2 linked regions of the Homo sapiens genome follow. The protein of the gene in region 1 interacts with the protein of each later gene in a biochemical or structural test. Each region holds a gene or a part of one and is shown in the gene's direction. Other genes may lie near its edges. The genes, in order: ADRA2A and PPP1R9B.

Region 1 (15,597 bases):
CTTTTTGTCTTTATAAGGAAAGAAGAGGGAGATTTGGATAGGAAAAGCATAGAAGGAAGAAGGCCATGTAAAGATGGAGACAGATATTGGACTGATGCTGCCACAAGCCAAGGAATGCAAAAAGCCACAAGGAGCTGGAAGAGGGAAGGAAGAATTCTGCCTTAGAACTTTCGAAGGGCATGTGACCCCACTGATACCTTGATTTCAGACCTCTAGCCTCCAAGGCTGTGGGAGAATATGTGTCTATTATTTTAAGCCACTCAGTTTGTGGTAATTTGTTACAGCATCCCTAGGAGACCCATACAGAGCCTTTCCAGTGAGATTTAATTTTTTGAATGAATTTTTTAGTTTTAAGATTTGGCATTCAGTTCTTCTTTAGCATGTCTATTTCAGAGAACTTCTATCTTTTAAATTACTTAATGAATACTTACCTTTACCTCTTGCAACCTGGTTATAATAGTTACTTTAAACTCTGTCAGATAATTAATTCTAACATCTCAAGTTAAACATCTGTTCATCATTTCTCCCTTCCCAGCATTTAGCTGGATCTTTGTATGTTGAGCAATTCTGGATTCTGTCTTGGACATTATGATTATTACTCTTGGTCCTGTGAAAATCTGTTTGGTTTATGTTCACAGGAAATCAACCTAGTAGTTGGTTTCAAATCACAGGTCTCATCTCCCCTTCTGTAACCAGTGTTTTGATGTTGGGGGTATGAACCTTGGCAGGATCCTGCCTGCCATTGGTCACACGCATGCACAGGTCACAGGTGGGCCTGGGACTTACACCTGATCAGACACAAGGCTTAGAGGATTCCCTTCTCCAGCTCTTTTCTCTTTGGGTTCCCGTATGTAATCTTGGTCTCCCAGGGACCCATTGTCCCATTCCTCTGGACAGAAAGATAGGTTTCTTTTAGAGTTTTAGTTACCCATGATCCTGCCACCAGTTCTGCATGACTGATTCAGTCCCTGGGCAGAGTGGTAAGGTAAAAGAGCAAAAAAAAAGACAGTAAGAGTCCTGAAATCCCTCCCCGGCTCTGCCCTTTAGAGCACAGGGTCTTTCTTTCCCTGTTCCTACTGCCAGAAAAGACCTTTTTTTTCCTCCTCAAAGTTGTAGCTGCCTATACGGCTACTGCACATTTCCCTATTTGGGGCCACTCTAGTGGCAGGGTGAGGAGAGTAAAAACAAGACAAATAAGAAAAAATGTTCAGAGAGTTTCTCCACATTTCCTAGCTCACAGTGGACCTCTCCACCATTCTCTGTCAAAAGAGGGAGCTTCACCCTCTGAGTTGCTCATACCGGCTGGGGTGCTCAGTTCCACAACTGAGGCCTTCCGTGGATCAAACGTGAGAGACAAAAGAGGAAAAAAATCAATAGGAAACTCTCTCATGAGGCTTTCTTCCTCAATTTTTGTTTTCCCTTTCCACTCTCCCTGTTACTGTCTGCCTTTCAGATAGCTGCTTTTTGAATTTTCCAGATGTTTTAGTTGTGCTGTTTAGTTGGACCGAGAGGCTGTAATAGACTTGCTCCATCTTGCTTGGCATCGGGAGTGGGTCTATCTTTTAAAATTTCTTTTGTTTATCTTTCATTTCTACATGATTGGACAAAGGGGTGCTTCAAAGTCTTGAGTTTAAGCCACGCACAGTGGCGTAGGCCTGTAGACCCAGCTACCTGGGAGGATTGCTTGAGGCCCAGGAGTTTGAGGCCAGCCTGGGCCACATAGCAAGTCTCCATCTCTAAGAAAAGAAGAAGCATAAACTTAGAGTGCCATCATCAACTGAAAATATTTGGTGCTTAAAATCAAAACTGTTATTTAATTTTTTTGAATATATGTAACACTAACAGAAAAGATTCCTCTCAAAGACTTTGCAGTGTATAGAAGTTATTGGAAGTTATGTTTTGATGATTATATGATCATTGTCTAGCATGGAATCTGGCGTATTGAAGATGAAAACTATTTTTATGAAGTTAAGGCTCTAGCATTCATTCTGGTCAAATATTCTGGTTGCACAAAATAGAAAACAACTCCAAGAGGCTGAAGTAAAAGGGGAAGTAGTTGTGTGGGCTCTGAAATCTCATGGAATCCAAGAAAAAGAAGCAAGAGGTTCATCTCAACTTCCTAGCAACAACATTTGGAATTTGGAGTGCTAGGAGAAACCAAGGCAGCTTCTTTCCCATACATACATATATATATATATAATTTTTTTTTTTTGGTGGGGAGGCTTGCATGATTCCTTACATTTATTACTCTCTATTTGCTTAATCCTCTTTCTCCACAAAGTTATCAGCTTCTTAGTGACAGTACTGAGTTACTGCATCCATCTTGCCCAAAGCCAGCTCTGCCTCAGGTTAAAATAAATTTCATTTATGTGAATCAATCCATTTTCTGTTATATTTTAGGCACTTTGGGTTGGCTCGAATTGCAGAAGAAATCACCCTAAAAAACCATTCACCTCTTTATCCTATTCAAGCTTCCATCAGCTTTGAGATTCCAACTCTCTTCTCTTTCTCTAGATTTATTTTTTTATTTTTTATTTTATTTATTTTTTTGAGACAGAGTCTTGCTCTGTTGCCCAGGCTGGAGTGCAGTGGTGCAATCTTGGCTCACTGCAACCTTCGCCTCCCAGGTTCAAGTAATCCTCCCGCCTCAGCCTCTTGAGTAGCTGGGATTACAGGCACACGCCACCTTTCCCAGCTAATTTTTGTATTTTTAGTAGAGAAAGGGTTTCACCGTGTTGGCCAGGCTGGTCTGAGCACCAATTAAACCCAACACTGTCTTATGTATTTTCCATGTATTCACACATTTAATCTTTGAGGATATGCATGAGATATGTGAAATTATTTCCCCTTTTTCCATATGAGGAAACTGAAGTCTAGAGAAGTTAAGTAAATATAGTTATGAAATGGCAGAAGCAGGACCAGAACTCAGGTTTCTCTTACTCTAAAGCCTAAATTCTTAACGACTTCACTTGAATGCCTCCCAGAAACTATCAGGCCGTGGTCCTTTTACCAAGGAAGAGTTTGTGCTTTGTGTTATCAATTAGGAAAAATGGGGAAAAAAAGATCATTTCCAGGGAGCAGTGAGAGCCAGACCATCTCTTAAATATGTCTGTGTGCATGTGTGTGTGTGTGTGTGTGTGTGTGTGCATGGGTGTATATGCTTCAGGCGTGGCGTCTCCATGGTTTCTTTGAGTAAATGTGAAAGGTGATTTACCTTACCTAATTAGATTAATGGAATATTAGCTTAAGAGTTATTAATGTTGGTGACAAATATCTCCTTCATACCCAGTGGCTCTAGCTCACCTGTTATACCTGAGAACAAGTAAGCATTGCTCACCATAACTGTTTCAAGGTTTGCTTTTGCTCATGCTTCTGGACAAAGCAGACAAGATAATTCACCTGGATGTGGTGGAAAAGGTCACTGCTTTGTGAGGACTGACTTGGAAGACTGTGGTAGGTGATGTTAAACTTTGTGTGTACACACAAGCTCTCAAAAGTCACATTGTAGTGGCAACACAAACATGCCCTGCAGGGTGGCACACCAGCGAAGAGCCAGCTGGGAGCCCAATCTTTCTTGGCATCCTCAAGGTTGAGTTGATCCTAGTACCAAGTGCTGTCTTTTTGGTATTGGCCAGAAGCCCTTGCAGAGATAGAAAACACCTGGCTTAATTTTCCAGGCTGGGGCAGGATGGGTTAGCACGTTAGAAAGAGATAAAGGCGATGGCAGGACTCATCGCTTGTTTTTGTGAATACAGCAAGACTGATCCAGCAGTCAAATGATGAACATGGTAGGTGGTGAATAAGGCAGCTCCTTACAGCACCCCTGGAGTTGATGCTTTTCTTTTGGCTTCCATTAACCTTCAATAACGATGGGATTCCCAAGGGCTTCAGCACAGGTACAAAGAAGTGGAGGAATTAAGTAATAGCTTAGAGGAAGCAATAGAGTTTTCCCTATTGACTCCCCCCTTCCCCTTGTCAGCAATACAGTGAGTTGACAGATGATTGTAGCTTACTGCAGCATTTGGTTCCAGCTGTGCACACGGCATGAGTAGTAGCGGGAACATTGCATTCCCCACCTGTTCATCATGTTCAGACTAGCAAGTGTGTGTTTAAGTTCAGGCTGTGGTGGGGGCAGGGGTGGGTGGGTGGGGGGGTGGCCTGTGTTTATGTGTGTGTGTGACCAAATTGCTTCTATCTGTGAGGATTTTGTCACAGCCTAGGAGTCCAGGCTAAATGAGTCATGTTTTCTTTTTCTTAGACAGTCAAGTCTTTTTTTTTCAAAAAGTAAGCAATTAATATTCTCTCCCAGCCAGCTCCCTCACTTTTGTTAGATGAAGTCACCATCAAAGACATAGAAGCCAAGACAAATTTTGGTATTGCCTGATACTTTAGTTTCAGATATAACATGAGGACAGATGATTTATCTTAAGAAGCTTTCTTTTATTGGCAAATTACCTAGCTGATAGTTATAAATTTATCTTCCTCTACTTACATATTCCTTTTAGGAAAAAAGAGAATGAGAGAATCCTATACTTATATCCTTGAACTAGTTAAGCTACCTCAACTATTAAGAAATCCTGATTTTGGAATAAAATGCTAGCCATCGTAGTCACCAACTTCACCAACTTCTGGGCCCCTCTTGCCTCTTTGATAGCTTCAGTGTAAGTAGAATTCATTCATTCATACATTCATCCATCACACATTTATCAAGTATCCATGCTCTGTGTGTTATATTTTGGTATTTATTGAATTACTCATGCACTTGTTAAAAATGCAAACACCCAGGCCCCGCCTTCATCCTACTGAATCAGAATCTCCAAGGAGTAGGTACTAGAAATATGATTTTTAAAAAGCCTGTTTTAGAGATGCTCTAGGAATAGAGATGAAAAGGACAGTCCTTTCTACCTGCTAGATCATCATACAAATGAATAGATAAGCTAGAGCAAGAAAAGTCCATCTAAGCCATGATAAAATATGTATGGCACCCATGAGAGAGAGAGGTTGCTTCTACTAGGAGGAGGAGGGGTTGCCTAACCAGTTGGTGTAGTGCTTGCTCTCCATCAGCTTGGCTGTTGGGGAATGGTCAGTCTCCTAGAGTGTATGTGACGTTGCCTCCAAGAGTGGGCATTAGATACAGAAAGAGGGAATACATCTTGCCTTGTACTGTCCTAATCTAGTAGACATCAATGGACTGAAAGGACAGGGCTAGAAGGAGGATGTGCTAACTTGTCAATGTGCTCATTTCTGATGAACATTTTGCAGGTTTCTCTTTGGCAGTGCGATCAAGGCTGGAGATTCACAGTAAGGAACTTAGAAAGCTCATTGGGCTTACCACCAGGAAAAATAGAGTTCGGCTCTGTCCTTGCCACTTATTAGCTGGACAGTTTACTTAGTCTGTTGCCTAGTTTCCTCCATCTACAAAGGCAGATAATAAAATCTACATTATGGGATTGTTTTGGGAATTATATAATATATAGTACATAAACTGCTTGGCATTGTGCCTAGCATGTGGTTGGTGCTAATAGGTACTATTTATTTTTAGTAATAATATAAGTAATAATGGACCCCCATTTGGGTCCCCAGAAATGACTCCTTCTCAGGCCATCAAACCCAAACTCCATATTTACAGTGGCTCTCAACTATTTGCTCTGTCCCAGCTCCCTGGAGGGCTATGACACTGTCATAGCAGTCTCACTGGCTCAGGGCAGTGATTCTCAATCTGGGGCCCACTCTTTCTAGCTCAAGTTGGCTTCCTACCCCGGGTAATTTGGACACTGCCTCCTGTCCCCACAAGGGCACTTGCTCATCACTCCTGTCCCCCACTGAGATTTATTGCTTTGGGTGGTAAGTCTTCAGCAGGGTGTGCACACCTGCAGCTCTCAAGGAGTTTTGTCAAAATACACATGCTGCATCCCACCTTGGACCTGGTGAATAATTTCCCTGGTGGGGCATTGGTAAGTGTATTTTGTCTTCCTAGGAAATGCTGATCTATAGGCCTGGTTGAGAATTATTATATTTGTGGATATCTTTCTGCTCAGCAATGTCTCACTCAGCTTGCACAGCATGAAATCTTCTAGCAAAAATTAATGGTGTCCACATAGCTTTTCAAAGCTCAGAGATACTGACCCTGTGTGACAAACTGAGGAGGCAGAACCTTTGGTGATAAGGAACATGTGACAGGAATAAGAACTCTGTGTATAAAGGGGCCATGTATATCACCCTACACATGGTGCATACATCATGGTACTTAATAAAATGCAGCACTTGTTATTATTGGTATTCGTTGTGTATTGGCCTCAGGGTTCCTGGCTCTGAAAAGACCTGTTCCCATTTTAGGAGAAAAGACTCCAAATCAGGGAATTAAGAAACCACCTGGCTGTTTGGGAAGCATTTAGAAAATATGACAAGAGGTGTCATACACAGGCTAGCAGCAGAAATTTCAAGAAAGATAATTACTGTAAACTTTGTTTTTATTTCCTCTTTTGATTCTGAAATTAGGAAGAAGAGCAGTGTGTTGGAAGCTGGGGTGCAGATGGTAAGTGATGGTCTCCTAAGACTCAGTTCCCGAGTTCTACAAACAGCAACACAGCAAACCCCAGATTGCCACGGGCTCTGATTTTTGTCTCTTAGTATTCATACTTGAAGTGTGGGGTTCCTAGTTGCTGTGCAAAAATGACTGTAGCCATGTTTCCAACTGAGCCTACTGGCGATGTCCAAAGCCCCTGCCAAGAGCCTCAGAGCAGAGACTTTAGTAGAAGATGGAAAATGAGTGACTCAACAGAGCGAGGAAATTGTCTTCTCAGCTTCCTTTAGATTGTCCAGAAAGGGAGATTAGAAAGGCTCCTCAGAACTAACACTGGAAAGGGAGTTTATACCATTAGGGCAAAGATTGGGAGACAAAGGTACTGAAGTCAAATGAGACTTCTGTGAAATACTTTGGAAAGTACAGATTTTGAGACTACATGAACAGCAGCAGCACCAATAACTGTATCACTGGTGCGGGCTATAGACATCAGCTGGGAATGAAGGTGATTCTCAGGGCCCTTAATTTAGCCATCAGCCCCCAGCCAGACCTAAGCCTGCAGCTGGCTGCACAGAGAGGCAGCCTGTTCCATCCTTGGAATTCCAACTTAGGTGACTGCACAAGGCATTTTGGTTTAGTGGTTCCTTAAATAAGACGACATTCCTTTAAGTCTAATCTCTCTCCTGCTGAAATTTCCTACCCTCTTGGGTTTTACCATTAAACTGCTTGCTCTCATCTGAAAAGTGCAGCTAGCAGGGTGCAAGCTAGTGCTCTAGTGACCGTTAAAATCTATCCTAGGACAGCTAGCACGCACGGAAAAACTTGCCATTCGCCGCACACCCACTCCCCCCCGCCCCCACCGCTATTCTTATCAGAGAGAACATGGAAAATATTCTACTCCCTCTTCCCCTTATTGAAGGATGCTGTGTGTACATCTGAATGGGGGTGGGATGCGGGGCGGGAGTGGAGTCTAGCTTTCGGTCCTCAACAAAAACATAATGATTCCCAGCAAGCCAGAGCTGTGCAACCAAGGAGGCAGGATCCTGGCCTCTCTCGGATCTGCAGGAAGGGTGGGCTGTGCGGGTCCAGAGTGGGATGCCCGTTCTGGCCGGCGGTGCCTGCTGAGCCCTTCCTGATGTGACTTTATTAGACAAACCCCCACTCCCGCCAGGGGTAGACACACGAGTATCTGCTTTAGGAAGATTTCTGCAACACGGCAGGGTGCAATTCAAACTCTGGGTTCTCCTTTCCTGAGCTTAGAAACCAATTTGTTCGGAGATAGGAGAAGGCTCTGTTGGCAGAAGACCTAAGAGACGGGAGGAGGCGCCTGGCGTCAGCGGGTCGCTTCTCAGCCGTGACCACGAGCGGCCAGCAGGTGTCAGTGCGTCCTCGCTTTGCCCTGGCGCTCGGCTCCTGGACCCCTCCCCACCTCGGTCTAAGGGGGCGCGGTCCAGACCCCGGGTCTTGCGTTTCCCGCAGACAGCATCGCGGCTGGGAGGACACGTAGCCGCTTCTTCCCTAAGCGGAGGTCTGAACTCCGGCTTGTACCACTTCCCCGTGGGTGCTGTCCATTCCGCCCCAGGGGTTCCATCCGAAGCCGCGCCTTCCTCCCTCTCCAGGACCCCTTTCTCCCCAGCCTCCAGGAGCACCTGCGGACCGCGTCGGCTCTGGCCCGGAGCTGGGCTGCTCCAGACGTAACTCACACCGGAGGTTACTTCCCTCGATTTGGGCGGGGATTCCCTTCCATTTTTTTCTTCCCTTTTCTCCCAAGATCCAGCTTCTTGGGGGCACTCACGGGTGCCCGTTGCGTTCTGCTCCGTCGGCCCGGAGCTGCATGGCCAACTCCCAGCAGGGGCCGCTCCTCCCCTACCCCCCACCCCCGGGCTCCCTCTTTAAGTCTCTAGCTCAAGGTACCCGCCTCTCCAAAGGGCTCGTCCCGCCTGAGGGCAACGCTCCCCGAGGTCCAGCGCTAGGCGCGGGCGCTAGACTGGCGGAGGGGTGGTGCGAGGGGCGGGGGAGGGTCGGCTTCCCACGTGGGGGCTGACGCCGGCTGCTCAGCAACGCTTGCTTGATCCTGGGGCTATAAAACGAGTCCACCGTGAGCGCAGCGGAGCAGCAGCAGCTCCAGCTCGGTGCAGAAGCCCAGCAGCCGGCGTGCCGCCGCCCGGCCACTCCAGCGCCTTCTTCCCCGCCTTGCGCTCCTGCCCCAACTCGCGCTGTCGTCGGACCCCGGCCCATCCAGCAGCGCTCGGCGCCCACCAGGCGGACGCCCAGGAGAACCCCTGCCTCCGTCGCGGCTCCTGGAGAGCTGATCGTTCACCTGCCCCGGCCCGCCTGAGGACGGGGGTGCCTTCATGCGGCCCCCACACTCCTCACCCCGCCGCCGCCGCCGTCCCGGAGCTCCGCACAGTGTGCCCCAGCCCCAGCAGGGCGCACAACTTTGGAAGTCTCGCGGCGCTCCGAGAGGCGGCAGAGTCCGCGCCCCAGCCCCGGGCCGGGCCGGGCCAGAACCGCAGCGTCTGGGGGAAGCCAGAGAGTCGGTAATCGCTTCGGGGATGTAAGGCGACAGACATAGGACCCCCGAGCTCGCATCAGCACCCTTCGGCTGCCTCCCGGGGTGGGGGCGGGCCCCGCACACGGTAAGACCTCTTGCTTTCGCTCAGGCTCAAGATTCAAGATACAGATATTGATATGTATATATATATTTAATTTCCTGTCATCCTTCCAAGTTATCAGGCCACCGATGATTTTTGTTCTCCCTTCTTGAAGAATAAATCTCTCTTTACCCATCGGCTCTCCCTACTCTCTCCCGCCGCTTAGAAATAAAACTTGGCTGTATTAGGAGCTCGGAGCAAGAAGGCGCCCACCGAGAGCGTCTGAAGCGCGAGCCAGGCGCAGTTCGCGGGACCCGGGCCATGGGCCGCTAGCGGTCCTCCAGTTCGGGCCCGGCCTCCCTGCGGCCCCCTCCCTATGTGAGCCGCAGCCAGGCGAGCGGGGCGCCGGAGGAAGAGGAGGACCCACGGGCGCCGGGCCGGAAGGCAGCTGGCAGCAGGCCCAGGCCAGCGGGCGCCCGCGTTCATGTTCCGCCAGGAGCAGCCGTTGGCCGAGGGCAGCTTTGCGCCCATGGGCTCCCTGCAGCCGGACGCGGGCAACGCGAGCTGGAACGGGACCGAGGCGCCGGGGGGCGGCGCCCGGGCCACCCCTTACTCCCTGCAGGTGACGCTGACGCTGGTGTGCCTGGCCGGCCTGCTCATGCTGCTCACCGTGTTCGGCAACGTGCTCGTCATCATCGCCGTGTTCACGAGCCGCGCGCTCAAGGCGCCCCAAAACCTCTTCCTGGTGTCTCTGGCCTCGGCCGACATCCTGGTGGCCACGCTCGTCATCCCTTTCTCGCTGGCCAACGAGGTCATGGGCTACTGGTACTTCGGCAAGGCTTGGTGCGAGATCTACCTGGCGCTCGACGTGCTCTTCTGCACGTCGTCCATCGTGCACCTGTGCGCCATCAGCCTGGACCGCTACTGGTCCATCACACAGGCCATCGAGTACAACCTGAAGCGCACGCCGCGCCGCATCAAGGCCATCATCATCACCGTGTGGGTCATCTCGGCCGTCATCTCCTTCCCGCCGCTCATCTCCATCGAGAAGAAGGGCGGCGGCGGCGGCCCGCAGCCGGCCGAGCCGCGCTGCGAGATCAACGACCAGAAGTGGTACGTCATCTCGTCGTGCATCGGCTCCTTCTTCGCTCCCTGCCTCATCATGATCCTGGTCTACGTGCGCATCTACCAGATCGCCAAGCGTCGCACCCGCGTGCCACCCAGCCGCCGGGGTCCGGACGCCGTCGCCGCGCCGCCGGGGGGCACCGAGCGCAGGCCCAACGGTCTGGGCCCCGAGCGCAGCGCGGGCCCGGGGGGCGCAGAGGCCGAACCGCTGCCCACCCAGCTCAACGGCGCCCCTGGCGAGCCCGCGCCGGCCGGGCCGCGCGACACCGACGCGCTGGACCTGGAGGAGAGCTCGTCTTCCGACCACGCCGAGCGGCCTCCAGGGCCCCGCAGACCCGAGCGCGGTCCCCGGGGCAAAGGCAAGGCCCGAGCGAGCCAGGTGAAGCCGGGCGACAGCCTGCCGCGGCGCGGGCCGGGGGCGACGGGGATCGGGACGCCGGCTGCAGGGCCGGGGGAGGAGCGCGTCGGGGCTGCCAAGGCGTCGCGCTGGCGCGGGCGGCAGAACCGCGAGAAGCGCTTCACGTTCGTGCTGGCCGTGGTCATCGGAGTGTTCGTGGTGTGCTGGTTCCCCTTCTTCTTCACCTACACGCTCACGGCCGTCGGGTGCTCCGTGCCACGCACGCTCTTCAAATTCTTCTTCTGGTTCGGCTACTGCAACAGCTCGTTGAACCCGGTCATCTACACCATCTTCAACCACGATTTCCGCCGCGCCTTCAAGAAGATCCTCTGTCGGGGGGACAGGAAGCGGATCGTGTGAGGTTTCCGCTGGCGCCCGCGTAGACTCACGCTGACTGCAGGCAGCGGGGGGCATCGAGGGGTGCTTAGCCCCAGGGCACTCAGAAACCCGGGCGCTGCCTGCTCTGCGTTTCCTCGTCTGGGGTGGCTCTGCAGCCTCCTGCGGGCGGGCGTCTGCTGCTCCTACAAGGGAAGCTTCTTGCTGCCAGGCCCACACATCCCCAGTTGTTGGTTTGGCCACTCTTGACCTGGAGCCATCTTCCTAGTGGGCCACCCCTAATCACTATTGCTTCCTAAAGGTATTTTCACCCTCTTCGCCTGGTACAGCCCTCACAGCTCTTCAGAGCAAGCACTGGACTACAAGGGCATGGCTCACAAAAGGTTAATGGATGGGGGTTACCTAGCCCTGGCTAATTCCCCTTCCATTCCCAACTCTCTCTCTCTTTTTAAAGAAAAATGCTAAGGGCAGCCCTGCCTGCCCTCCCCATCCCCCGCTGTAAATATACACTATTTTTGATAGCACACATGGGGCCCCCATATCTCTTGGCCTTGGTTTTGATGTTGAAATCCTGGCCTTGGGAGAGATGCCTTCCAGGCAGACACAGCTGTCTGGTTCAGGCCAAGCCCCTTTGCAATGCAAGCCCTTTCTGGTGTTATGAAGTCCCTCTATGTCGTCGTTTTCACCAGCAACTGGTGACTGTCCCTTCGACACGGACCTGCTTTGAGATTTCCTGACAGGGAAAAGATTTCTGTCCATTTTTTTCCTGTGCCTAACAGCATAATTGCCTTTTCCTATGTAAATATTATGATGGTGGATCAAGACATAAGTAAATGAGCCTTTCTGCCTCACATCAGCCCTGTGTATAAAGCCATTATTCTCTGATGCACTGTTTGCCCCAGTAACTCACTTTAAAACCTCTCTTTCCAGTGTTCCCTCTCTCCCTCCAGGGCCACTGCTTGAAGAAGAATATGTATGTTTCTATCTTGTATGTCTGTGTGCCCCTCCTGCCCCGAAAGTGCTGACTATGGGGAAATCTTTTAGCTGCTGTTTTTAGACTCCAAGGAGTGGAAATTATGTGGAAGAAGCAAACCTGATACAATTTGCCCAAGGTAAACAGTTTGAAAAGACAAATGGGCCTGCCAAACTGTACAGTTTCTTCCCCAAGAGCTGTTAGGTATCAAAATGTTGTCCTTTCCCCCCTCCGTGCTTTTCTGGTTGAGATCATGTCATTGATGAACTGCCAAAGTCAGGGGAGGAGGGCAGAGACTTTGTGTTTACATCTGCATTTCTACATGTTTTAGACAGAGACAATTTAAGGCCTGCACTCTTATTTCACTAAAGAAAAACTAATGTCAGCACATGTTGCTAATGACAGTGGATTTTTTTTTAAATAAAAAAGTTTACAGATCAAATGTGAAATAAATATGAATGGAGTGGTCCTCTTGTCTGTTATCTGAGTTTTCAAAAGCTTTAAGACTCTGGGAACATCTGATTTTATGGATTTTTTAAAAATAAAAAATGTACATTATAAAAATTTTTTAAACGTTCCATCAGTAACAAAGCTACCATTTACTAAGTGTTTCTGACATGCTAGACACTGTGGTGAACTGGTTGTAGGCATTGCCTCGTTTACTTTTCTCAAGAACGCTATGAGGTAAGTTTTATTACTATCCCCATTTTACAGGTGAAGAAACTGAGTCTCAGAGCAAGTTTGTTAACCTTGCTCAAGGTTAACAAGTGGTGGAAATGCATCGTACCCAGCTTTATCTGGTTCTAGGGCCTGCACTCTTAACCCCAGAACCTTTCCAGAGTTTTGGCATTAGCCCTTCTCAGAACACTCCCAGTGGAGAGGTGTCTATGCAGTGTGCTATCTATACCAGGTGTGAGATATATCCCAGTATTTAATATACACAAGGTGTATACATACCCCAGTGTCTACATGACCTAATGTGTCTATATACCTCAAAGTGTGTATCTACTCCAAAGTGTGGTATATGCACCAAGTGTGGAATATACTCCAAAATGTATATCACACCTTAAAGCATGATAATATATGACATGTAGCATATACTCCATAGTGTGGTTATGCACTAAGTATGGTCTAAAACCTGAATAGAACCATGTATTAGTTGGTGGTTTGAGTTGTCTCTGGCCAGAAGGCATGCATCCTTCTTGTTGCATTGCTATAATATCAAAGTCTGCTCTGCTGTCTAGGAGGGCTTATGGCCCTCATACTATGGTAATGGCACTTTGAAGCTGGAAGGGGCCTTAGTGATCCAGGAGTCCAACCCCTCATCTGACAGATGAGAAGGCAAATGCAGATGCAAGAGGAAGCGACTTGCTCAGGATCCCAAGGCGCTAGGTGACAGGGCTCTGGCTCCAGGCTGCCCGGGTTAGGGCGCAGCTGAGAGATGTGTAGTAGTAGTTCTGTGTGTGTAGTCAGATGCAGTACTGATGAATAGCCACTTATGGAGGAGGGGGGTTTGAGGGGCAAACACAAGCGTCAGGTTGTGGTTTTGGGGGAGGCCAGCTTTTGTGAGCCCAGTCACCTGTAATATGTGCGGACCAGCTTTGGACACCCCCCAGAAGCAGGTCCTCTGCACCCTCTGGGCCATGCAGCATCTCCTCATCTTCCTTTGCTTCTCTCGTGCAGGAGAGGGTGTCTGTGTATGCAGCAGTGGGAGGGTAGAGAGCCCTGAGAAATGATCTGGGCACTGAGGGGCCTGGGAGAGGGAAGACCATGGCTCTGAGGGGGTGAGGAGTTCCTGCCGTCACCTGGATCCTCTGAGCCGGCACACAGGAGGATGGCCAGGTGCTGGGCTCCAGTGACCCTGGCTCAGAGGCTTCAGAAAACAGCCTCCTGGCCTGTGGTGCCACGGCTGGCTCCCTGGTCTGGTTCTGTGGCCTGCTCCCCATCCCACCCTCACCCCAGCCTCTCCTCTCCCTCCTCACTCCAGTGTACCCATTGCCCCAAAGGCAAACAGTGCCAGACAACAGCCTGCCTGGCGAGCCCCCAGGACCCAGGCTGTGTGTCCCAGCCACAGGAGCAGATACAAATACTGCTTGCTGTTGACTCTCAGCTCTGTCCTGTCTGTCAGGGAAGTGTTTGCCTTGCCTCCACCCGCCGAGGGGGAAGAAGCATGGGCTGAGGTGCTACACGGAGGGGCCTCTGGTGTCATGCTCCCTCCTCCTCGATACAGAAGCAGAGAAACCTCAGAGGTGGATGGAGGTTGCAGAAAGTGGGGGAGAGAGGGCTGGAGCCCAGGCATGGGTGGGTTTCTGAGTTCACAGTAGGAATCACTGTTTATTCATTTGCAAAGGGCTCAAGCAACAGTCTGCCAAGGTGTGGGGTGGGGAGGGAAATTAAGGTGAAATGGCTCCCACAGGGATCTTGGCTTAAAGAGCTAACCCCACATTTTCCTGTGCATAGTATCTGTTCCCGAGTATCTGGGCCAAGAGGGTCTGTCTTCGTGGCCGAATCTCCTGTTTTATGTAACTTTGGTTGGGATATTGAAAGCCATTGGCTTTTGGGTCTGAAGTGTGTCTTGCTAGATTTACTCGTGCAAGTGTGCTGGGTTGGGGGAAGGGTAGTGCCTTCATTTGAGCCTGGGCACAAGCACAGTCTCCTCCTCCCCAAGGCTTTGTTCAATTTCTTCTATGCTAAAAGGCTGGGGGAGAGAATGATGAAAACGTGGCTTGGGCTTTCCCCTGTCTATGACTGTATAATCAAATCAGAGATTTAGAGCCAGAAGCATCCTCATCAATCCTTAACTCTTACCTTGTAGTGGCAGATCAAGGGACCTGAGACCTAGAAAAGCTGTTGGTTATGTAGCATTCCAGGAGCCCCTGAGCCCACTCTTCCATGTGACTCTCCGTCTGATGCCATATGCACCCAACATGAATTCTATTTTGTTTTGGGATGTGGTGAGTTGCTAATCAACCCCAGAGGATCCCCTGTGCCTGCTTTGTGTCAAGGACCATCCTAGGCATTGCAAGGCAGTTCTCTTCCTTCCCTGCATGCACTGTGCAAAGCTCACCACTTGTCCCTGTGGAGTGAGATTAGGGCCTGCCTCTGCCCTCTGGAAGCTTTGGAGCTACATGGGGAGACAGGATGTTCCTGTGAAAAGCACTCATTAGCCACACACAGTGACAGTGTGGCAGTGGGGGAGAGGATGCTGTGTGCCCACCAAGGGTAATAGGCATCTGTACTGTGAGTGAGCAGTGGGGGAGAGGTGGCTGTGGCTGGGAGCTCAGGGCATAGAATGTGGGAGTTGGGATGTCCACACTCTGAGAAGGCTAGGCCCGCGAAGGAAGCTCTGGTTCTAGCAGCTGAGTCCTGTGGGACCAGTGCCAGGCCTGGGCAGTGGCACCTAGGCCCAAGTCAGACCTCAGCTTTCATCCAACCTCATCTTGGGGATGGCATGACAAGGTCCTGTCCCCATTTGGGGACACCTGTAAGGAAGTCTACGTCCTTGACTCAGTAGCATAATAGGATCCAGGTACCGAGGTCCAGAGCCCAGTGCCAGGTTAGCCCTTTGGCCTCTGCCCTGGGCCCTGCCACCCCTCACAGTGGGCCTGAGAGTCCAGGGTGCAGGAAGGGGCACCTTCCTTAGCAGAGG
Region 2 (7,000 bases), on another chromosome or scaffold:
CTATTTCCTCTCCATCCTAATCTCCAGTTGCCATCATCCCGCCCCTTCCTGAAGCTCAGGGGCTTGGAGCATACCCAAGAAACACCTCCGCAGCCCATCCCTGCTGGGAGGGTCATCTTCACCTTTCCCTGCCTCATTTTCTCCCCTGTGGCAGGGGAAGAGCCTCCTCAGTGCATGTCCCCTGCAGCACAGCCTAGAGGTGGGCTGACATTCTCCCTCCCGCAATACTGGCCAGAGGGGTGAATGGGCCTTCCTGCCTCCCTTGGGAAGGAAACCTGATAAGGGCCCTCATTCCCCCATTCATTATTAACACTGCAGCCTTCGGACTCAGCCCTCTCATCTCTCCTCCCCTGGGAGGGCCTGAGTTTGGAGAGGGGAGCATCAGCAGGGAGGATGATGCATTACCTGGCTGAGGACAGAGGCAGCGGATGATGCCGGTGCCCCTGCAGGTTTATGATTGGCCGGGAGCGGCCGGGAGAGCAGAGCGAAGTGGCCCAGCTAATTCAGCAGACTTTGGAACAGGAGCGATGGCAGCGGGAGATGATGGAGCAGAGATACGCCCAGTATGGGGAGGATGACGAGGAGGTAGGGAGTCCCTGCCTGGCTGGCCGCGTGGTCGCCCCCTGGTGGCTAGATGAAGCATTACAGTCATCTGCCTCTACTGCTTCCCCTGCCCTAGTAAAAAGCCCACAGTGCCATTCCCTGTCCTCCAGTCACACTCTTTGTCTTCAGAGGCCGGACAAGGAATACACAGTCCTCTCAAAGAGCCCCCAGTCTGCGGGGAGAGCATAGCCCCTAATCTTGGGGGACCTAATCTGAAAGGGAGATAGATCCAGAAGGGGAAAGATAGTACAGGCTGTTTCTTCAGAGACCCAGGCTGATGAGGAACTGACCCCCTCTGTCATCAGGGGACTACCAGGCTGTTGGGGGAAGACATAAACCGTGTCTCTGGTCCAGCCTCAGGCTGAAGTGGGAGGCATGAACCACATTCCTGGGTAGCTCTCTGTCTGGCATGGGCAACTGGTCCCAGCCCTGGTCATCAGGGCTGAGGGCAGCTGGGTGGGGTGGGCCCACAGTCTCCGGTCTCCCTTCGCAGACGGGAGAGTATGCCACTGACGAGGATGAGGAGCTGAGCCCCACGTTCCCGGGTGGTGAGATGGCCATCGAGGTGTTTGAGCTAGCGGAGAACGAGGATGCACTGTCCCCTGTGGACATGGAGCCCGAGAAGCTGGTGCACAAGTTCAAGGAGGTGGGAGGAGGGGCTCCCTGGAGTGGTGGAGGGAAAGGCAGGCAGGTCTCCTGCCCTTGGCACTGCCTGCCCCACCCTGCTGGAGCTGAGTGCCTGCCCCTCTGCCCAACAGCTCCAGATCAAGCATGCGGTCACTGAGGCAGAGATCCAGCAGCTGAAAAGAAAGGTAAGGGTGCGTATGTGTGTGCTTTTGCGTGCGTGCATGTGTGTGTTGAGGAGCAGGGTCCCCCTACCCTCACACCTGCACATGCTGACACTTAGGCACAGGTACCCACAGAACAAGCTGCTCTAAAGCAAGATGATATGATAGATACGATATTAAGAGCTTAAGCTCTGGATCCATCTGCTCCAGCATCACTTGCTTCTCTGTGCCTCAGCCTCCTCATCTATAAAATGAGGTCGTAATAGCACCAACACCACAGGATCGTTGTGGGATTAAATGAGATAACACACGTCAAGTCTTTAGCACAATGTGTGACATAATAGGAGCTCAATAAAAAGTCAAAGTAGGCTGAGCGCAGTGGCTCATGCCTGTAATCTCAGCACTTTGGGAGGCCAAGGCAGACTGCTTCAGCCAGGAGTTAGAGACCAGCCTGGGCAACATGGCGAAAACCTATCTCTACAAACAATACAAAAATTAGCCAGGTGTGGTAGCGCACACCAGTGATCCCAGCTACTTGGGTGGCTGAGGTGGGACGATCATTTGGGCCAGGGTAGGTCGAGGCTGCAGTGAGCCGTGATTGTGCCACTGCACTCCACTCCAGCCTGAGTAACAGAATGAGACCATGTGTCAAAAGAAAAAAAAGTCAGTATATTAGCTGTGATACCGAAGCATGCTAAGTTCTGCTCTAGGTGTCTCTATGTTTGTGCTGTCCCACATATGTCTGCTATATATAGGCCCATTGATAAGTACAGACCACCCAGAAGTACACACACTGACACAGCAGCCTGGCCCCAGGCACATAGTACCCACAGACCCCCTCACCCAGACACATAGAGACACCCACTCTACACAGACACAGTCACAGAGACAATGGACCTGTGCTTCACATTACACTCGAGGCTATCAGCCTGGATATGCAGACCCACTCTGCACCCATCTGCTCTGAAACACACAGGCATGGCCATCGATCAGACCACCTGGTCTAGGAAGAGTGTCACAGGGCATGCATATTCTCATCTGGGCAAGTAACACAGAGGTGCTGATGCCGACCCCAGATGGAGACACGTGGCACACACACACACACACACACACACACACACACACACACACACGTAGTATACACAGATGCTTACACAAGCATGTCAGGTGCCAGCACCCTCACAGGCATGCAGATATACAGACTTCATATTAAAAGTCTGTATGGGGCCTCTGCTGGGACCTAGACTATAGGAGTCCCAGTACCTATGGGGCTTCTGCCGTGGTGGGGAGAGACAGATCTATAGGGGTCTTGCAGACATGGGAGTGTGTGTACCCTCCCACATGGGGGTATGCAGGAGAGGAGGCCAGGGTTTGGATGGCTGGGGCAGAAGCAGGGGCATTCCTGGCAGGGAGAGGAGCTCCATGGAGCTTGGAGTCTGGCTTTGAGGGGAGGCCAGTCAGGAGGTGGCAGCATGCCTGTCGGGGAGAGGTGGAGGCAGGGCTGGACTGCCAGGATGGGCTCTGGCTTGCAGTATCCTGCCTCCCCTCTAAAGACTCTGGCCTTGGTCCTACAGATAGCATGGGGTATGTGGCCATTGGGATTTTTCGGAAAGCCACTGCCTACAAAGTGGGAGGGCATGAAAGTGGGCAGTGCTGGGAGGCAGGCAAACTGGTTAGGGGCCCAGACAGTGTCCTGGCAGGGGTAGGCCAGGACTGCTCAGAGTATAGGCAGAGGGTCTGGAAAGGAAGGGTAGGTGAGCGCTGCATTTCCGGGGTCAGAGTGACAGGCCATGTTCCTGAGGTGTATGCAGAGTATGAAAGGGAGGGGCACGCCAAAGGTCTGTTAGTGCATTCTACTTACAGACATCCTCTGGGTACCTTCTAGATGTCCAGTATTGTTCTCATCACCATGATGGGCAAAGCCATAGTTGATCGTTGTTCTTGTGCATCTGCAAACCAGTGACTGTGTCATCATCACACGCTGGCATGGGGCTCTGTAGGAGAGAACAGGCTTACTGAGCTGCTAAAGCAGGAGGAACCTGATTCGGGTGGAGGTGGGAGTAGGGCTGTGCTGTTGGAGGGAGCTGTGGGGGCTTTTTTGGAGAAGTGACACACAGCAGAGAGCTGAAGGGTGAGCTAGAGGGAAATAACTAGGCAAGCAGGAGGGTAGATGGGGGACATTCCAGGCAGAGGGGACAGCACACGTAAAGGCCCTGTGGCAAGTCTGAGGATCTGCAGGAAGGCCTGTGTGGCTGGGGGACAGAGAGCAAGGGATGTTTGCAGCAAATACTGGCCTGAGACTGAGTGCCAACATGGCTATGAGGTTGTGGCGCCTTTTAACAGAGCAAGTCAGGAAAGGAGGCATAGGTTTGTGCAGCTGCGGGGGCCTGGTCTGGGGCATGGTACCTGGGAGGAGCTGGGAGCTAAAGCTGGGAGTTGGGAGCAAGGGTGGGCTGGGACTTGAGATTTGCAGCTCAGAGTGCACAGAGGTAGTGTGGGAGATGGGCCGGTGCCCCAGGGCAGTGAGTATAGAGAGAACAGAGGATCCGGAACTGAGCTGTGGGGGACTGGAGGTCTGCGCTGGGGTCACCTGGAAGCTGGGAGAGAACCAGGATTGTTCAGGAAGCCACAAGTGCAGAGACTGGCGAGCAGGGCTGGGGCTGCAGAGAGGGGACAGAGAGTAATGGTGACCCTCATCTGCCCTTTTACTTCACATGTACTGTCTCACTGGAGCTTTTGTGAGATTGGGAGGCACATATCACTGCCATTTTACAGATGGGATAACTGAGGCTTGGGACATTAGTTGCATTGCGCCAAGTCAGAGTATCAGTGACTAACCGAAGCCTCCAGCCTCCCTGCGAGTGGGGTGCAGTGACAGGGAGTCTGGTGGGAGCTCTGAGGCTGAGCTCTACTTCTTTCCTCTCTGGGTTTCAGTTCTCAGGCTCAGCCAAAGAGGGTTAGTAGTTGGGGTGCAATGGACTCCACAACGGTAGGAATCCCCTGGCGACTCTGGCCCCAGTGCTAGGATGGGGGTACCCTTTGGCTCCTGCTGGCCCCCACCAACCCAGGGCCGTGCCTTTCTCTCTCAGCTGCAGAGCCTGGAGCAGGAGAAGGGGCGCTGGCGGGTGGAGAAGGCGCAGTTGGAGCAGAGTGTGGAGGAGAACAAGGAGCGCATGGAGAAACTGGAAGGCTACTGGGGTGAGGCCCAGAGCCTGTGCCAGGCTGTGGACGAGCACCTGCGGGAGACTCAGGCGCAGTACCAGGCCCTGGAGCGCAAGTACAGCAAGGCCAAGCGCCTCATCAAGGACTACCAGCAGAAGTACGTGGCTGGGGGCTGGGCGGGCTGGGCCCAGGGAGCATTGAGAGGCTTTTGGGGACAGTCCCTCCCCATCCCTCCAGCTGAGTAGGGAGGCACAGAAGTTGGAGGGCCCCATGGTGGGGACACCCGGTCCGGAATGACCAGGCATCAGAGCCAGCACAGAGCCAGACCCCCAGAGGCTTTGGGAAAACCTGGGGCCTCCTGACCTGAGAACAGGGAAGGACAGAGTTGCCCAGGTAAAGCTGAGGACCTGGGTCACCCTGGATGAAAGCCAGACCACACACCCTTACCTGCCATCTGTCCCTTGCCTGTGCCCAGGGAGATCGAGTTCCTGAAAAAGGAGACTGCACAGCGTCGGGTTCTGGAGGAGTCGGAGCTGGCCAGAAAGGAGGAGATGGACAAGCTCCTGGACAAGGTGGGCCTGGGGCGCCCTGTGGGCAGGGCCCAGTGGAGGGAGCAGCATTGAAGCCCCTACCCTGTGGGTCCTGGAGGGAGGGGATGCCATGTCCTCACCGGGGGGCGGAAGGGGCTGGGATCATGCCTGGTGTCCAGACCTGACCCCCTACCCTCCTTTGTTTTCCAGATCTCAGAACTGGAAGGAAACTTGCAAACACTGAGGAATTCCAATTCTACTTAACAGGAATCATTCCATGACTGGACAATAATTAACCCCCCTCCCATTGTCCTCCCTCCCCTGTCCTCAACACCCCACCCCTCCCCCTTCCAGCCTGGGGACAGGTGCCCCGACTCCCCCCACCCCTCCACCCCACCTCCCCCAGCTTCAGGGACCAGAGGGCTCATATCACAGGCCCCCTTAAGATGGCCTGGGCAGACAGAGGTGGCTAGAAGGGCAGCCTCTTTCTTGCCCCATGGGGCTGAGGCACAGAGGCCGAGGGCTGCCGAGGGCTGGCCTGGTGGTCGACGGACACAAGCACCTGCAGATCAAACTGCCAGACTTTACACACTCCAGCTTTTGTCTCTGGACTGGAACGGGGCTGGGGCTCTCCCAGCATCTGCCAACTGGGGGCTGCTCCCTGCCCATGGGGCACCTGGGTGGCCCCTGGGCCTCTTGACTTGAGATTCTACCTTCTCGGCCCTTCCCTCTCCCCCCATCATTGTGCCGTCTCTGTTGCATTCTGACCCTCCCGCCTGGGGGGTGGGGGCGTTGCCTCAACACCTCCCCCATCCCTGTTCCCTGTCCTGGGAGGGATAGAGTCCACCCCAGAGCCCGGAGGCTGGGCCTGGCCCTGGCCCTGCACTGATTTCTCATGTGTCCTTCGGGAAAAGGGGGAGTGAGAGTGGGAAAAAGGGAGAGTTCAGGACACCTGGTCCCCAGCTCCCCATTGCCTGGGGCAGCAGCCCTCAATTTCTCCTTGTGCCTCCCCTCTTCCAGGTGCCAAATAGCCATAACCTCGTCTTGGAACTGTTATGTGGCCTCTCTGGGGTCCAGGTTTCCTGGTCAAGCCTGGGAATGCCAGGGAGGAAAGGGGGTCTGGCTACAGCGACCCTGGTCTTAGGCAAGGGGAACATTTCTCCCTGGAGAGTCAGGTCCTATCCTGTGCTGCCCTGTCTGCCCAGCCCAGGGCGATGCCTGGAAGCCTACTGACATTGCAGGGAGTCAGCCTCGCCCCCACCCCCTACTGGTTTTCCAATGTTTTGACTGGAGGGCAAAATTTTACTACTACTCATCTTTTTGGAGACCAGGGCTGCCCTGCTGGCAGCCTGCCTTCTAAGTGAAATCGACTCTGTTTCCCCACTTTAACCCCAAATTGGGGCTTGGACCAAGGGAGGTGAGACCACCTCCCCCAGGTCCCCTCCCCTTTCAAAATCCATCTCATTTTGCCACTTCATGCCCCTGCCCTAACTGGGTTTTTGTTCATTTTTTAAAAACAGACCACCCATCCCATCCGTTTTGGCTTCTTGTCCCCTGTAAATAGACCATGACTTCGATCAGTATTTCTTGTCCCCACCCCTTCCTATCCCCAGATGTGCCCCCATCCCCTGAAGGAGCTGGCTGTCTCAGTCCTGGGCTCGCGCACTTCACCCCGGCAGATGGAGGGGGCGGAACCGGGTGGGCGGGGCCGCTTCGGGCTGCTTGGGCCAGCGGCCACCCCTGCCCAGCCGTCGGGAGGGCCGCATCTCTGTATATAATATATATATGTATGTATTGTTCCCGGTTTTGTACGGACCATGCCCTCTGTCAGGTCGTCCCCATAAAAGCAGCCCCCAGAGCCTTGCTGCCTGGTTTCTTGATTCACTGAGGTGGGGAGTGGGCAGGGATCAAGGATGC

Evidence for each region.
Region 2: the proteins of ADRA2A (region 1) and PPP1R9B form a complex in vitro, tested with the Homo sapiens proteins (one study listed by BioGRID).

The regions. Positions count from the first base shown.
Region 1 is NC_000010.11:111,068,396-111,083,992, forward strand, and holds ADRA2A (alpha-2A adrenergic receptor), read left to right. Parts: upstream 1-8,633; 5' UTR 8,634-9,601; coding exon 9,602-10,999; 3' UTR 11,000-12,512; downstream 12,513-15,597. UniProt on the Homo sapiens protein: Alpha-2 adrenergic receptors mediate the catecholamine-induced inhibition of adenylate cyclase through the action of G proteins.
Region 2 is NC_000017.11:50,133,678-50,140,677, reverse strand, and holds the end of PPP1R9B (neurabin-2), read left to right. Parts: intron 1-449; coding exon 450-585; intron 586-1,096; coding exon 1,097-1,249; intron 1,250-1,361; coding exon 1,362-1,415; intron 1,416-4,480; coding exon 4,481-4,710; intron 4,711-5,028; coding exon 5,029-5,125; intron 5,126-5,293; coding exon 5,294-5,347; 3' UTR 5,348-6,941; downstream 6,942-7,000. UniProt on the Homo sapiens protein: Seems to act as a scaffold protein in multiple signaling pathways. Modulates excitatory synaptic transmission and dendritic spine morphology. Binds to actin filaments (F-actin) and shows cross-linking activity. Binds along the sides of the F-actin.